2 separate regions of the Homo sapiens genome follow, and region 2 is linked to region 1. The links come from fine-mapping of genetic effects on gene expression. Tissue or cell type: skeletal muscle. Region 1 holds a variant in brackets; the other region holds the start of a gene. All regions are shown on one strand. Distances are between the middles of the regions.

Region 1 (8,177 bases):
ACTGTGTTCTCAGCATTGGCAACAGTGTTTACAGCCTCCTTTGCGCTCAACTCCTCTTGAAAATCTCCCACACGCACACCACTGTTCACTGCTGCTAGCGCGCTGTTCAAGAGAGGGTTTTTATATTTACTCTTCATTGATCTAAGGATAACCTGGTCACATGACTGAATTAATGAAGTCACATTTGGGGAAAGTACATGGCATAAGCATTTTTTATGAGAATCTCAGCTGAAAGATGAGCAGAACTGTTGTCAAGGAATAACAAAACCTGGCCAGGTTTTGTGCCTCATGCCTGTAATTCCAGCACTTTGGAAGGCCAAGGCGGGAGAAGTGCTTGAGCCCAGGAGTTTGAGATCAGCCTGGGCAACATAATGAGATCTTGTCTTTACAAAAAACTTAAAAATTAGCTGTAGCCCTAGCTACTTGAGAAGCTGAGGTGGAAGGATCACTTGAGTCTAGGAGTTCAAGACTGCAGTGAGCTAGGATAACACCACTGCACTTCAGCACGGGTGACAGAGAGACACCTTGTCTCTAAAAAATTAAAATAAAATAAAATAAAAGGAATAAGAAAATCTTGCAGTCATATCTAGCTCAGCTTCCCTGAGCACAAGTCACTGGTACAAAATGTTTGTGAAATAGGCCGGGCACAGTGGCTCACACCTGTAATCTCAACATTTTGGGAGGTTGAGGCAGGAGGATTGCTTGAACCCAGGAGTTCAAGACGAGCCTGAGCAACATAATGAGACCCTGTCTCTATTTTTTTAAACTAAATTAAATCGAGTTTTTAAAAAACAAAATGTTTGTGAAATCAATCAGAATTGGTACTGCATGCATTTTTGTTAGTATAACAATTAGACTGGTAAGAAATTTACTCCATGAAAACAGTGAGGGTGCAAGTGTTTGCCCATCACAGCAAGCTCAAACTTATGCGTGCCTGCTGCATTAGCACATCCCAGCACCGTCGTTCTGCCCCTGACATCCTTCATTCCCACAGGGGCTGTCTCATCAGCTGTAGTCAGTGTCTTTCTGGGGCAAGCTCAGCAAAACAGTGATGTTTCATCAGTGTCGTAGAGTTGCTCTTGTGTCTGTAGAGTTTTATCAGTGATGAACTTGGCAAACTCATTAATGAATTTCCTCACTGCTTCTTGATCAGCAAATGTTTTATCACCACAAATCTTTAAGAATTTAATGCTGTCTTTAATTTTCTTTTATTTTCTTTCCTTTTTTTTTTTGTTTGTTTGTTTGTTTTTGTTTTTTTCCAGAAGGAGTCACGCTCTGTCTCCAGGCTGAAGTGCAGTGGCGTGATCTGGGCTCACTGCAACCTCCGCCTCTCAGGTTTAAGTGATTCTCCTGCCTCAGCCACCTGAGTAGCTAGGACGACAGGTGAGAGCCACTACGCCCAGCTAATTTTGGTATTTTTTCTTTTCTTCTTTGAGACAGGCAGGGTCTCACTCTCTCACCTGGCCTGGATTGTAGTGGTGCAATCATGGTTGACTGCAGCTTCAACCTGCTGGGCTCAAGCCTTCCTTCCACCTCAGCCTCCTAAGTAGCTAGGACTATAGGCACATACCATACCTGGCTAATTTTTAAAAAGTTTTGTATAGTAATTGGTTTTTCTGGAGTAAAATCAAAACAGAAATCTCATCCCCAAATATTCAGGATATGTATTTTTTCATTGCAGACACAGTGGGGCATTGACCGTAACTGCTTTAACAAAAATATTTAAATTATCTTGTAAGTCAGTGTTTTAAGGAGATAAAAAGAATCTGGGATGATGTGAAATAAAAATACAGTGGAAATAAAAAATCTTAGAAAAACATGTTTTGTATAGACGAGGTCTCACTATGTTGCCCAGGCTGACTCACACTCCTGAGCTCAAGCAACACTTTCTCCTCAGCTTCTCAAAGTGTTAGGATTACAGGCATGAGCCACTGAGCTCAGCTTAATGTTGTCTTTTCTTAAATTTCTGCATCCAGCCTGTTGAATATTCACAGTTTCCTTCAATTTTTTGTTCAGCTTGACTGATCCTTGCTTATTTAATGATCAGGGTACCATCATACAACACTGACGGGGTCACTCTCAGTACACAGCTGAGATCTTCATTTTTAGCTTTACGCAGTTTTTTTCTAGTTTCATTAACTTCTGTTCGTTTCTTGCGGCATAGTACTTTGACAGTTCATCCTTCTGTTTCTTCAGGTCATGTGCCATGGTCATTCCAACACTGAGCTCTTCCATCTGATGTTTTACATCTGCAGCACTGTCCGGCTTCTCCAACAGCTTGACTTTCCATGTTATAGATAAACACAAATGCTTCCTTTTTTTCTTATCACTTCTTTTTTTTTTTTTTTTTTTTAGCCCATGGGAGTATCAGCAGGCCTTTAAAATTTTAATCAATAACTTTATTTATTTATTTATTTTTATTTAATGTAATTAATTTATTTATTTTTCAGATGGAGTCTCACTCTTGTTGCCCAGGCTGGAGTGCAGTGGCACTATCTCGGCTCACTGCAACCTCCGCCTCACAGGCTCAAGCAATTCTCCTGCCTCAGCCTCCAGAGTAGCTGGGATTACTGGTGCCCGCAACCACACTCAGCTAATTTTTGTATTTTTAATAGAGATGAGATTCCACCATGTTGGCCAGGCTGGTCTCGGCCTCCTGACCTCAGGTGATCCACCCGCCTCAGCCTCCCAAAGTGCTGGGATTACAGGTGTGAGCCACCGCTCCTGGCCTTAATCAATAACTTTACACCACACAGCAGAGAATAAGAAAAAGAACCAAGTGAGTAATGCAGGTAGATCTTGGCTTCATGTGGGGCATAGTGGGGAATGTGTTACTGGTGCCTCAGCCTGTGAAAGTGCTATTTTATTCTCTGTGTGAGTGCTTGAGGGGCAGAGGGAACCTGGATGTGCGTGGAAAAGATACATCACTGCTGAAGCGGGCTGAGAAGGCCTTTTTTTCCTTTGGGGATATGAAATAAACGATGTGTTGTGCACCAGTATTTTGACTGTGACATGTCACATGAGATCAGATGTGGAATTTTCCACTTGTGACATCATGTCCACTCTCAAGACATTTCAGATCTTGGAGCATTTCCGATTTCAGATTTTAAGATTAGGGATGCTTAACCTGTACTTTCTTGCAACTGAAGGCCACAGGTTTCCAGATTGAAAGGATTCACTTGGGCCCAGCACAAACAACAAAATAAAACCACACCAAGGCACAGGATGATGAAATTCCCAAGCAACAGAGATAAGGAAAAGAATCCAAAACCCCACAGGGAAAGAAAATAAGAATTAGAATGACATCAGACTATCAATAGCTGGAAACAAGATCACAGAGAAATGGTTCCACGGTTGGAGGAGGTACAATGCTACATCCAAGCAAACTATCACTGAAATGTAAGAGGAGAATAAAGACAATCTCAGACATGCAAAACTTTGAAAATGTTACCTTCCATGCAGCTTCTCTCAGGAAGCTACTGAAGGAGATGCTCCAAGAAAGGAAATCAATGAAGCAAAAGGAAGGCCTGAAACCCAGGAAATCAGGGCTCCAACTCAGGAAATGGGCAAAGGGGACTTCTCAGATGACGGAGCAGGGAAGTCCAGGGTTGACAGCTGTTTGATGGCTTCCAGGACAACCAGTGGTAGGAGGGCAACGTTCTCCAAGAGAAGTGTCTCCGAGAGGAGAAAGGGAATGGGGATGTTACCTGGCGTGTGTAAATTTGCTCAGAATAGTTCTCCATTTCTGAGAGAGTGAAGAGGTGAAATTAATGACAAGCACATAGGTAACTAAAGAAAGCATAAAGGCAATTATCAACTTCCAGAAAGAAAGGTTATACAAGACAGGAAATGTAATTAAAGCATATTATGTGGCATAACTACGGACACTATTTATGTGGTCATAATAGTAACCACAGAATATTGATCTAACAAAAAATGATACCCTTATGAGAATGGTGAGAGGGTACTTGGGAAAGCAGCATAAGAGCTAATCTTCATCTTCGTAACAGAAAGTCCATCAATAATATTTAATACTAAAAAATCAAGGATTATCAGTGCAGAGAGGTGATTTAGAAAGAGGTAAGAAAATGCCAGAAGAAATAACTAAAGGTTGAAAATGCTCCATCTGGGGAAAATATTTGGTCTGGGCAGGCACAGGGTGGCGCTGCTCTTTTTCATTATATGCTGTTGAAAACCATTTGACCTTTAAAATGATATATGACTTCTTTAATTAAAAAAATCAAAATTAATTTTACAAACAACTTTTAAAAATAACCTCTAGGGAGAAGTGGAAACAGGCTTTATAAACATATGTATCCCTTTACAGGGGAAATATATTTAAAAACTGTTTATATTAAAACAAAAAATAAATTTTAATT[A/T]AAAAAAGGGGGGGTGGATACTGGATTTGAACCCAGGACTTTGACTCTCTGTCAGAGGACGGTGGAGGGAGGAGTTGGACCCACAGGACACATAGGACTTGGACCAACAAAGATGGGGAGGGAATTCCCAGCTGGGAAAAGACACAGAATATTTGGCTCAAAACAAGAAACCCACACAGAGATTTTGGTTTGAAGCTTTGGAAAACATTTGTTTTCGTTCCTTGTAAAAAATGGATGACGAACGGAGTTATTTGAAATGAGATTTTAACAAGAAAAAAACTCATCACATTTCATTAGCATTCTCCTACGAGCCCATTATTAACAAGTCCGATGACTGGTTTTAAGAGTTTCTATTTCCTTATGATCTCCAGTGAAAGTCATCAACACCAAGAGAGGGTTCAGAGTTTGTTCATTGTTTGCTATTTTTTTCAGTTAACATTCTTTGTTCTTCCTCTAAGCATATTATTTGATTTATATTTTTGCAACCACTTTCCACACTGCCTTTAGAGCTTATTTATGTGTTAAAAAGGCACTTATGCAAGCGTAGGTCCCTCAGCGTGAGTGGATTGAAACGGCATGTGCTTTAGAGACACACAGAACTTAATTTGAATTCCAGATACTGGTTTATTAACTGTGTGATCCTGAGCAACTGACTCATTCTCACTGGGCTGCAGGATTCCCTGAAAAACTGGAACCAGACATTCATTTCCCTAGCTATTGATGTGAGTAGTAAATTAAGGAACAAGGCTGGGTGCAGTGGCTCATGCCTGTAATCCCAGCACTTTGGGAGGCCAAGGCGGAGGGATTGCTTGAGCCCAGGAGTTCAAGATCAGCCTGGGTAACATGATGAAGCCTTGTCTCTACATAAAAATACAACAATTAGCCAGGTGTGGTGGCACGTGCCTGTAGTCTCAGCTACTCGGGAGGCTGAGATGGGAGAATCACCTGAGCCTGGGAAGTCCAGGCTGCAGTGAGCCATGATTGTGCTACCACACTCCAGACTGGGCGACAGGGCAAGACCGTGTCTCAAAAAAAATTAATTAATTGATTAAGGAACAGACTTGGAGAACCTGCTAGTTACTTAGCAAACAGAAATTACTCTTCCTTTCCCCCATCCACATATACAGAAAAGTACTCAGACGCTAATTACTTAAATGACTTTTACCACAATTGTGTCCAAGTGGAATTTCATCCGTCCACCTACATTTTGAGGATTTCTTGGAACTCCTTGTCCATACATATCTCACGGCTATTACAGACTGATAGTGCCTGCTGAAAGCTTCTAGAAAAGCCTTGGAGTTCAGTGGCTGTGCTCTGACCTAGGATTAGCAGTAAAACAGGGTCCAACTCCCTATCGTGTCTTCAGGTTCTAGCTCATCTGAGTCATGATCAGTCCATTGCCATTCAGAAGGCAGATCCAAGGAAAAGCGGTGCCATGTGCAAATGTGACCAGAATATAGCACTGGCCCCGGAATCCAAATGTCTGATTCCGATTCTGGCCTATCCCTCACGTGCAATCTTGGACAAATCCTTCCATCTTTCCGGGCTGTGGCTTCCTCATCTGGCTAAAGGGAATCACACCCCTGCCTTGTCAAGCTCACTGGTTTGTGACGAGGTTTACAAGGTGAGGGAGCAGGTGAGGGTACTATCTGTATATCTTTTCTTCCAGTGTTTCCTTGCCTCCTCTTTTCTGCTCCTACCCTGGCTCTGTAGGGTGGGAGGACAGGAAAGAACCCTCAGGGCTTCCGGCTTCTGAATCCCACGAGAGACAGCTTATCTCAGCCTCACTAAGTCCCTGGCACTGTTCTAAGCACATCACGTGCATCAACTCATTTGATCCTCAGAACAATCCTAAGAGGCAGGAGTTATTACAGCCCATCATCCAGATGAAAAAACTGATCGTGATCACTTAACGGGGTTCAGAAATCCACCAAAGGTCACACAGCCAGGGAGTGAGGGGCCAGGATTTGAACTCAAGCTTCCTGGCTCCTGAGCCCCCAGACTCAGCCAGTTCCTGTGTTCATACTTCCTCTCACACCATAAAACGTAAACCTTTAGGAAAATTGAGAGAAGTTTCCCAAATGGAAGGAAAAGAAGGGGAATTGTGGGTCCTCACACACCATCTCAGAGCCAAGGGGAGGTGGTATTGATTCCAACTTCTTGGATCACTGTGGGGATTGAACTAGAAAATAAACATTCTGGCTTATGGAAGTCCTCAGAGATTGGCACTTCCCTTCAGCACCAGCCCCGGAAGCCCCATCACCCTGAGCCGGTCCATCTCTTGGAATCTTGAAGTGTCCTGTGTCTGGTCGGGACAGGTAAGTAGCAAGATATTCGTGGAGCTGGCAGGCCTACATGGAAATGAGGGCCAACTTTTTCACCTTTATCATTTTCCCCCAAATCCAGGTTCCAGGGACTTGACTGCCATGGCCAGCTGTCAAGGGTGAGGCTGCTGACTTCTCGGCACCCACCTCCATGCCTCCTGGGCCTCCCTGGGTTCCGTGGGGCCTCCTCCGAGTATTGATGGCAGGAAGGACAGGCCCTAGAGCTGGGCTCAGAGCTCAGCAGGGCCCAGTTTGCCATCCTGAGGCTCCTCCAAGCCTCAGGCTCCTATTGTGCAGAACAAGGACAGAAATCCTTCAGGCCAGGAGCAGTGGCTCACACCTGTAATCCCAACACTTTGGGAGGCTGAGGCAGGCAGACCTACTTGACGTAGGCCAGGAGTTCGAGACCAGCCTGAACAACATGGTGAAATCTCGTCTCTACTAAAAAATAAAAAAATTAGCTGGGCCCGGTGTCATGTGCTTGTGATCCCAGCTACTTGGGAAGCTGAAGCAGGAGAATTGCTTGAACCCTATCCGGGAGGCACAGGTTGCAGTGAGCCGGGATCACGCCACTGCACTCTAGCTTGGGTGACAGAGCAAGATTCTGTCTCAAAAAAAAAAAAAAAAAATCCTTCATTCACTTAACAAATATCAAAGTCCTACTGCGTGCTGGGCGCTGTTCCTGGTGCTGGGAAGATCAGGGAATTACACAGATGAAGCCACTGCCCTCACGGAGCCCAGAGCCTAGTGAGGGACAGATAAAGAATAAACAAACGTGTAAGCATGACCTCTGCTGCCATGGAGTGGTTTAAATGGAGAAAAACAAAGCAAGGTGAGGAGGGATCGTAAAGACTCACAACAGCACAATTTTAGGCAAGGGGTCAGGAAAGGCTTCTCTGAGCCACCGAGCAGGTACTTGAGCCAGGTAAAAAAGGGACAGAAAGAATCACACAAATAACCAGGGCACAGCGTTCCAGGAAGAGGGAACAGCAAGTTCAAAGGCCCTGCGGCAGGGATGTGTGCACTGTGCTGGAGAGACAGCCAGAATCACTCAATGGCATCAGTCATTGAAGTCACAAGAGGCAGGGGAGCTACATCCTGTAGGGACTTGCGGGCCAGGGTAAGGGACACTGGAGGAAGGGGAACATTTAGCAAAAGAAAAGACTTAGGAGGACAAGGGATAGTATAGAGCCAGGCCTCAAAGTCAACCAGACAAGGTTCAGACTATGGCTGTTATATTCAATAGCTGTGTGACCTCAGAAAAGTTCTCTAAGCTTTCTGAGCCTCTGTTTCCCCATCTACAAAATGAGTCATTGGCTGGGCATGATGGCTCATGCCTGTAATTCCAGCACTTTAGGAGGCCGAGGCGGGAGGATCACTTGAGGTCAGGAGTTCGAGACCAGCCTGGCCAACGTGGAGAAATCCTGTCTCTACTAAAAATGCAAAAAAAAAAAAAAAAAAAAAATTAGATGGG
Region 2 (8,177 bases), 21 kb after region 1:
TGTTAACCTCTCTGCCCTCAGTTTCCCCATCTTTAACTCGAGAGTGTAGATCTAAATGCTAGAAGAGTACTAAGGGACTCTTCCAGCCACTTTTTGGCAGGGATCAGACTTCGGAGAGTGAACTCAGGGAGCAAAGAGGTGAAACTGGAGCAGTGTGAGGGTTAAAGGGAAGGCGGCTGGCGGTGCCGAGCAGGGGAGCACGTCGGGGGTACAGCACCAGGGCTGGAGGAATCGGCTGGCCCACAGGTGGGCGACCTGGGACCCTCTATGTCAGGTGGTACATGCTGTAGCCCACATGGGCCGTGTAGAGTCCCACGGGCGCCACAGGCAGCGCGGCGCGCTGGAAGGGGCCAGAGGCACCGTAGAGCGAGGCACCCGCCGCGGCCGCTACAGCTGCGGGGCCGCCGAGAGGGAAGGAGAGGCCGAAGGCAGCCGGTGGCAGCATGGGCTTGGCGGCCATCTTCAGCTTCTCCAGCTCTGCCTCTTGTAGTCTCTTTGCCTTGGCGCGGCGGTTCTGGAACCATATCTTCACCTGCGTCTCAGTGAGGCTGAGCGAGCTGGAGAACTCCGCGCGCTCGGCGATGGACAGGTACTGCTTCTGGCGGAACTTGCGCTCCAGCGCCAGCAGCTGCGCGGTGGTGAAGGGCGTCCGCGGCTTACGGTTCGTCTTGTGTTTGCGGAGGGTGCAGGCTGGGGGGCTCAGCCGCCCTGAGGGCCGAAAGAAAAAAAAAGCAAGGGGTTAAGAGAGAAGCATTGGAGCATGATCAGCCCAAGAAGTAGTAATAATAGCCAAACAATACCAGATATTGAGTGCCGCCAAGTGCCTCGGTGCCGGGCATCGCGCAAGGCACTTGAAATATATTTTCTCCAATTCCCATTGCAACCCCGCAGGGGAGAAGTTCCTGTCTACTTTTTGCAAATGAAGAAACTAAGATTCCAGGAGAAAAATACCCACGTTGAAGGCTCGATGTCCACATCTTAGGCCTAAACAGCTGGGAAGATGTGAAATCACCTTTGTGCTGCCCGGCGGCTTAGGAAGGCCTTCATGGCGGGCCTCCTCCCAGGGCCATCCAGAGGAAAGGTGGATGTTAATACAGTTGACGAACATGCAGAAAGAGGCCCTGCGCCCAGCCCAAGGGCACATTTAGTTTTACGCGTTGGCCAAACATTTATCAGTGCCCACGGAGTGCTTCAGTGTGGGGCTAGGCAGTTTTGTGGCATAGAATCCAAATCAAATTCTACACTTTCCCCGGAACACTTCGCTCCTACGGGATTCTAGGAGTAGTTCCCGCAGACCAGAGATGGAGCAGCGCAGACCATCATGGAGGGTGCACTGTGGCCAGCCCTCTTAGAAACAGAAAGTGTCATCTGGAGCGGAGAACGAGGGGCTGCTTTATTCTAATGGGCTTTTTCTTTAGATTGTCTCAGTCCTCTGTTGGATCGCGTTCACCCCTGGCGCCAGGGCCCTCTGGCCCCACTCAAACGTTTGTGTGTGTGTGTGTGTGTGTGTGTTGATGTTGTTGCGGGGGGAGTGTTGAGATCGCCTCTCCCCTCAACCTGTGGCATAGTCAGCAGACATCAACATGCCCAGCTGTCTTTTTCTTTTGGCTTCAAAATAAACCTCAAGGGTGGACAGTGAAGAAGCATCAGAGCGCAGGACTAGTGCAGGTCGGGGATGGGGTCTGCTGGGGACTGCCCCCGGATAAAATGTGGAACAAATTATCCCAACACAGCCGGGATCGCTTTGACTTCGGGGTCTTGGGGCCCAAGGCCCTAAGCGTTGGAAAGGACACTTTGCCTATGCAGCAGCTTTCCCGGCAGAAAGTGAATTCAAATCGAAGATGTTTCACCACGCGGGTTTTGCCTAAGTATGCATTTTTTCACACCTCTCTAAAAAACAACCACAAACAAACAGAAAAAACAAAACAAAACAAAGAAAACACAACGATCCTTTGGACTTTCAGACCACCAGGATGTGAGTCAAACGAAATCTCGTGTTAACACCCCGCTTCTTCCCTGCTGGAGGCCACCGGGAGTCCGGGAAGCGCTTGGCCCCCAACTAGCTTTCCGCCGGGCCGCCCGAGGGGCGGGCGCCGAGAGAAACGTCACTCCCTTCAGCGGCGACAACCCAGAGCGGGGCCACCTTCTCCGGCCATTAGGCTTAGGGAGGGACTGGCCTTTCAAAGACGTTTAATCCCCAGATAAAAATCATTCCTCAGCATCACGCCATTGAAATCTGGCTGCTATTATGCCGAGCAAAATAATCGGAGGAAACGAGGAAAACTTGGGAATTTCCCGTGCTCCTGAAATATCTCCGAGCGTGTTCTCTGAGTAGAGCAGCCAGGGGGCCGTGAGGCCTTGGAGCGAACCGCCTTGGGCACCTGGAGTCCACTTTAATGGCTCAGTCCTAGACGTTTGGGAGCTTCCCATAGGATTAGCGGGGGCGCCTTCCCCTAATTGACTTGGTGCCCCGCCCCCTCCACTGGAACCTGAATGTCCCCACCCCTGAATCATCCATCCGCCCAAAGCACCAACTATCTGCCTCAAACTCAAAGGGCATGGGGAGGTAGAATTCTGTAGGAGCTTCGGAACCTCTAGGCAAAGAGGTACTTGAAAGGGAAGAGGGGCTGGGGGACACCAGCTCCTACTGCGAGAAAGTGAAACTCCGGGTGCAGGGAAGATACCGCACCACACACATTCATCCGCTGGGGTGAAGCCGATGAAACAGAGTTTGGGATCAGATGAGGGATCATGGACCCCTGAGGTCGTTTGGTGGGGGCAGGAGGACAGGGTGCCCAGACATCGGTGTCCTATCCGTTAACTCCCACCCGCAGCGTCTCTGGGCCAAGGCGAGGAGGTCTGGAACCTTCTTCCTGGGTGGGAGTGGAGGGAGGCGCAAGACCCGGCCTTGCAGCCCACGGCTCCCTAGCACCGGCTGCAGGTACGCAGGCGCCGGAGGCCACCAGGAGCCCTCGGGTCCCACACCCCACCCGGCCCCCACCCGGCCCCCTCCCTCTGCGCCTGGGTTCTGGCTACTCACTGGCCGGCGGCGGGGAGAAGCGGGGGCTCTGCATCCACGGGGTCCTCTCGGGCTTCTCGGGGCTCTCGGCTTTGACGAGCGCATCTTCTGGCAGCTTGAGGAGTCCCCCCACCGAGAAATGGCCGAGCGGCCGCGGCGAAGAGGGCGCGTCCGGGGCTCCCAGCGACCCCGGCGGGACGCCCAGTGGCTGCGCCGAGCCACCCGCCGCCTGCACGCCCTCGGAGGGCGCCAGGGCGCTCTCCTTGGCCCCCGGCTTCCTGTGGTCGGCCATGAGCGCCTCCACGCTGAAGGGCAGGAGCGAAGGGGACACTTTGGGCTTGGCCCCCTCCTCGTCCGCGCCCATGGCGGCTGCCGTGGCCGCGGCGGCGCTGGGGGCCTGGCCCGCGCCTCCCCCCGCCGGCTTGCCGAAGGCGGAGTCCTCCACTTTGACACCGAGTGGCAAAGAAGTCATGTCAGCAGCCGGGGCCATGCAGAGCCGGGCCCCCCCTTCTGCCGCAGCACTGGCCAGCCGCCGGGCATGGGCTCCGGGCGGGCTGGGAGCGCGGCCGGCCTCTGCGAGCGCCCGGGGCCCTGGCCGGGCGGACCCTCCCGCGCGCGCCTCCCGCCCCTCCCCAGCAGGCCAGCTCCGGCGTGCTGGGCCTGGCCTCCGGTCGCTGCCGCCGCGCAGGCAGAGTTCCCGGGAGCACTCGCCGGCTCCGGGCCCTACCGCGGCTCCCCAGAGAACTTGCTAATAAGGCGAGGCCAGCGGGGCGGCGGCCAATCAGCGCGCGAGGGGGCGGGCCCGGAGCGATCCATTGGGCCGCGCTCCTGGGGACTCGCCCGGAGGCGCGCTGGGCCTGGGGGCACGCAGGGCAGGGCCCAGGCGGCGGAGGGCAGGGGAGGAGAGGGGGTGCCCGGGAAACTTTCCTCTGCGCTGAAGCCCAAGAGGCCCTCTCTGCGGGAGTCCCCTGGGTCTCTATCTTTCTGTGTTCCCGGGGGATTTTCCCTTGTTCTCGTTCCTTCTCTTCTGCCCTCCTCTCCTCCCCTCCCCTCCCCTCCTCAGCCCTCTTTTCCGCTCCTCTTTTTTTCCCCGTCCTTGTTTCTCTCCTCTACTGCTTCTTTTACCTTTCTCTTTAGTCTGTGGCTGGGTTTCCCTGTGCCCCCCTCCACTGTCTGACCCCCCCTCTTCTTCTACCACAATAATTTGAGTTGAGGTTATTTCTTACACATTCCTTTTATATATAGTTTTTAAAATACGCATGGCTATTTATCCTAGGAGAAAGACATACTATTAACTTCTTTTCAAGAAACGAAACAAAACCAAACCTTCATTTTCTTCCTGTTCTGAAATCTTGTAAACTTTACCTCGAGGTAAAAGTGGGCCTTTGTCTCTAACTTAGAGCTGGAGTAAACCTTGCGGGAAGAAGCTAGCTTCCTGTAGTGCCAAGGATGTGAGAATACGTAAGATTATCTAGAATCTGCAGTCGGTTTTCATACACGATGTGTATTCCCCCCCCCCCACCCTCGCTCTGAACTTCTGTCCCAAGGGTCACAACACCTATAGCGCCCGGGCGGGGAAAGGAGCTGCCAGATCCTTTTGATATAGAACTTACTGAAATAAAACCAACAGAATCGTCAATGAAACACCGATCTGGCCTTAAGGTGACCTCAAACAACGCGTCCTCGGAAACAATGACATGTCCCTATCTCTGGGCCGCTGATCCTGGAGGGGAGAGGCACATTTGGGGGAGGGGGCTGGGAAAAGAGGAAAGTTCCTGGAGGTGGACTCTAGTGTGGGACTTGAGAACTCTTCTTTTGCCAATTTCGGAGAAAACGTGATTTAATGTTTGCTGTTAATAATAATAATAATAATAAAGACAGAAAAAATGAGTTGGGGTCAGGGGAGATGCAAGATCTGCCTGAAGCGGGGTCGGGGCTTGGCCATTTTCTGCGCCTGTCGCTTTATGGCCTCTCCTCCTGCGGCCCAGGCCAGCGGCTCTCAGGGAGTGAGCGGAGGTGATTGGCGGCTCACTCGGCCCTGCCATTGATGACTGCGGGGTTCTAATCTCCAGGAAACACAAGGGGCTGCCGTGGCCATTTAGGGGTAATTATCCGAGCGCGGAGGGACAGCGAATTCCCTCGACTTTTAACTGGGCGCAATAAAAGCTGTAGATTAGGGGCGTCCAGATTAGGGAAAATGAATTAGAGCGGGAACTTTATTATCCGGAAGACGTCCGGGGTCTGGCGGCAGGGGTCGGGCTGCGGACGCCGGAGCGATTGGTAGCCTCCCATCTGTCCACAGGCCGCCGAGATATGCTGAGGCCTGGGGAAGTTCGGGAATACCGGCATCTGAATTTTACGCACATCTCCAGGTTTCTAAAGGACCCAAGACTGCAACTCAGGCACTGGGCAGTGGTTGGGGCTTCTAGCTCGAGTTGGGCCGGCTGGACGCGCGGTGCACCGGGGCCTCCGGAGGTTTGCCCGAGAGGGTACAAGGATAGAAGACCTTAAGACCCAATTTTGAAGCTCAGCTCGCTGAGGCTGAGCAAGGCTGTAGGGCAAATACCTTGCTGGTAGCCCAGCCAGGACAGCGAACAACAGCATCTTCCTCTTCTTCCTCTTCTTCTTCTTCTTCCTCTTCCTCTTTTTCTTCCTCTTTTCTCCTCCTCCTCATCCTCCTCTTCCTCCTCTCCTCCTCATCTCCTCCTCCTCCTCCTCCTTCTTCTTCCTCTTCCTCTTCTTTGAGACGGAGTTTTGCTCTTGTCGCCCAGGCTGGAGTGCAATGGCGCGATCTCAGTTCACTCCAACCTCCGCCTCCCAGGTTCAAGCGATTCCAGGACGGCGAACTTCTATTGCTCCCGTTCTAATCAAACTCTCGTCAGAACAACCCCCTCCGCACCCAGCCAGAATCTCCCTTTGTGGCCAGGTTAAAGGGGGAGAGGAAACAGAGGCCTATCTGCTTTTGGGGCCATTTAAAAAGCGAGCAGTGTGCCTTTTCGAGTCTTTGCTTAGTTCCGCCCTCGCCCTCCTTCTGCAAATGTTTTGCTCCCAGGTCTCTTTAAGAATCTGATACAGCCAAGAACTTCTTCCCTAGAAAAATGCACACCTACAAAAACACATTACAAGCAACGGGGCAGACAACTTCGGGGGCTCTGGTCCCAAGTGGAGTCCTCCAGTTAAGAACCCCTGCTTTAGGGCTGAGCGGGGGCTTGAACTCAGAGAGCGAAGCCGCATGGTGCAGCGGGGGCTAGTGTGGAACTTGCGGCGGTCGCAGTTGAGGAGCGCAGCAAGGCCTGGACTCCGCCGCGGGGGGGGGGGGGGGGGCGGGGGGCCCGGGGGCGGGCGGCCTGAAAAGGGCCGCATCGCTAATTGCGGGGATAAACAATGTGTCACGATTCCTCAGCGCGCCTAATAGGCAGACTAGGATGTTGTTTTAAGGCGCCAGCGGCGGCCGGATCAAAGGCTGCACCCGGCGCACGGGCCCTTGAAGTCGCGCCCCTGCCTCCGGGGAGCAAATCGCCTGGCCCCGCAGCACCGGCCCCGCAGCCAGCCCCTCGGCTTCCCGAGCCGGGTCTGAACGCCACGGTGTCTTCTTTATAGGTTCGGCCTGGGTTCGTGTCTGCTGTCGCCCCGCGCGGCAGGTTAACCGCGTGTAAACGTTGCTAGGCGAGAAGAGTGCATCGGCAGAGAAGGGGGTTCAGACTCAATTCCGTGTCAGAAAAGCGCGGGGCTTTCCCATTGCTCTGCCCCTGGATTGCGAGAGAAAGAAAGGTGCCGGCAGTCTCAAGAGAAAGGAGTCAGATAAAAGAAATAAAATGTCTGCCTGTTTCCCAGGGCGTTGTTTGTTCCCGCGGGAGGAAAGCCACGAGTTACAGGGGCAGTGAGAGGGAGACTTCTCTGAGTTATTTTTTGTCTAGGACTTTACCGATTTCCCGGCCCAGGGGTTCAGCGAGCAGGCAGGCCCTGGGGCTGAGCCTGTTATCTCGCCGCCAGCTCTAACCTCGAGGCGTTTGTACCCCCGGCATTTCTCTGCGCTGCCGCTGCAGCCGAGAAAGCCGGGCAGTAATTCATGCCTGGCAAGGGCAGGGCTGGCCCCAGCAGATAAAGCTCGGGGACTGGCGCTCCGCTTCCATCCTCTAGACTTCTCTCCCCTCCCCTCTCGCTCCATCTCCCCTCATTTTCAGGCATCCTAAAGCACTCCCCGCCCCCAAGTAGAGGGCCTCTGCATTTCGGATCCTGAAGATGGATTATCCTTCGTCTACTTTCTGGGCAACTAAACTGGTGGTGGGTTTAGCTGGTTTTTTTTTTCCCCCAAAATTTTGCGGGGGTTGGGGGGATGGAGGCAGGGATGGTGGTGTTGCTAAGTATACACCACTCCCGTGCAAAGATTAATTTTTAGAAGGACCCCGTCCTAAAGACGGTTATCCCTATCTGGGTATTGCTGCACCGGTTGGAAGAGCCTGGAGGCTGACTTCTCACTTCGGCATTTGTTGTCGCCTCCGTCGGGTTTTTGTTTATGCTCCCTCCCTCTCTTTCCACTGCATTTTGTGACCTCGGCCCAGGAATCCCGCGTGCATTTTTTAAAAATGTGCAGCTCAGTGGGATCCCCCGGCAATTAGCGAGCCCCAAACAGTCCTCTTTAATAGAATGAATGTGCTATGAAAACCGATTACCCGGAACGATTTATTTTGGTGGGAATTCACCAATCGCCAGGAGGGCGACGGAGGGGGAGAGAGAGGAGGTATTTTGTCCCGGGGAGGGGGTGGGGGTTGACGGGCAGACAGAAAGCACTGTCACGGGGTCTCCCAATCTGCGAAGGGGGCCTCCCGACCCAGCCATCTCCACTCTTTTGGCCTCTGTCGCCTAGAAGTGAGGGGCTGGGAGTCAGGTTCAGCAAACTGGGAGTCACTAACTTCGGGAGGACTTCACAGCGTTCCAGAGAAAAACTCCGAGCCCTGAGAACTCCAGGGAGTCTTCAGCTACTGGTTGAAGATCCACGACACAGACCTGGAGAAAAACAGCGTTCTGCTTTCCGGAGACCTAGGCAGAACTTGCGCTTTTCAGGAGTTTTGGTACCTCCTTTTAACAGCGAAGTCAAAATACAAACTCTTTGTGAAAATGTTTCCTCCTTCTTGCTAAATCCTCCTCAAAGTGGGTG

Which allele goes with the higher level. Alleles are on the strand shown, and positions count from the first base shown. SD is a standard deviation of normalised expression in the study named.
As copies of A replace T in region 1, the expression in skeletal muscle of the gene that starts at base 3,744 in region 2 goes down (large effect, 0.77 SD a copy in FUSION).

The links. PIP is the estimated chance that this variant, and not a neighbour inherited with it, causes the effect.
Region 2: it holds the start of MSX1, and the variant in region 1 is fine-mapped to the expression of MSX1 in skeletal muscle (FUSION, PIP 0.95).

Annotation. Positions count from the first base shown.
Region 1 is chr4:4,876,685-4,884,861 of GRCh38, reverse strand. No RefSeq gene overlaps it. Among named protein-coding and RNA genes, the nearest start is that of MSX1, 21 kb to the right of the region's middle. The variant A/T (reference allele first, on the strand shown) is at 4,380.
Region 2 is chr4:4,855,232-4,863,408 of GRCh38, reverse strand. It overlaps MSX1 (msh homeobox 1), which reads right to left and starts at 3,744. Exons shown (of 2, transcript NM_002448.3): 1 at 3,041-3,744; 2 at 1-708. The coding sequence starts at 3,509. The coding sequence ends at 266. RefSeq lists an enhancer at 428-1,099 and silencers at 3,153-3,592, 3,603-3,842, 3,863-3,922.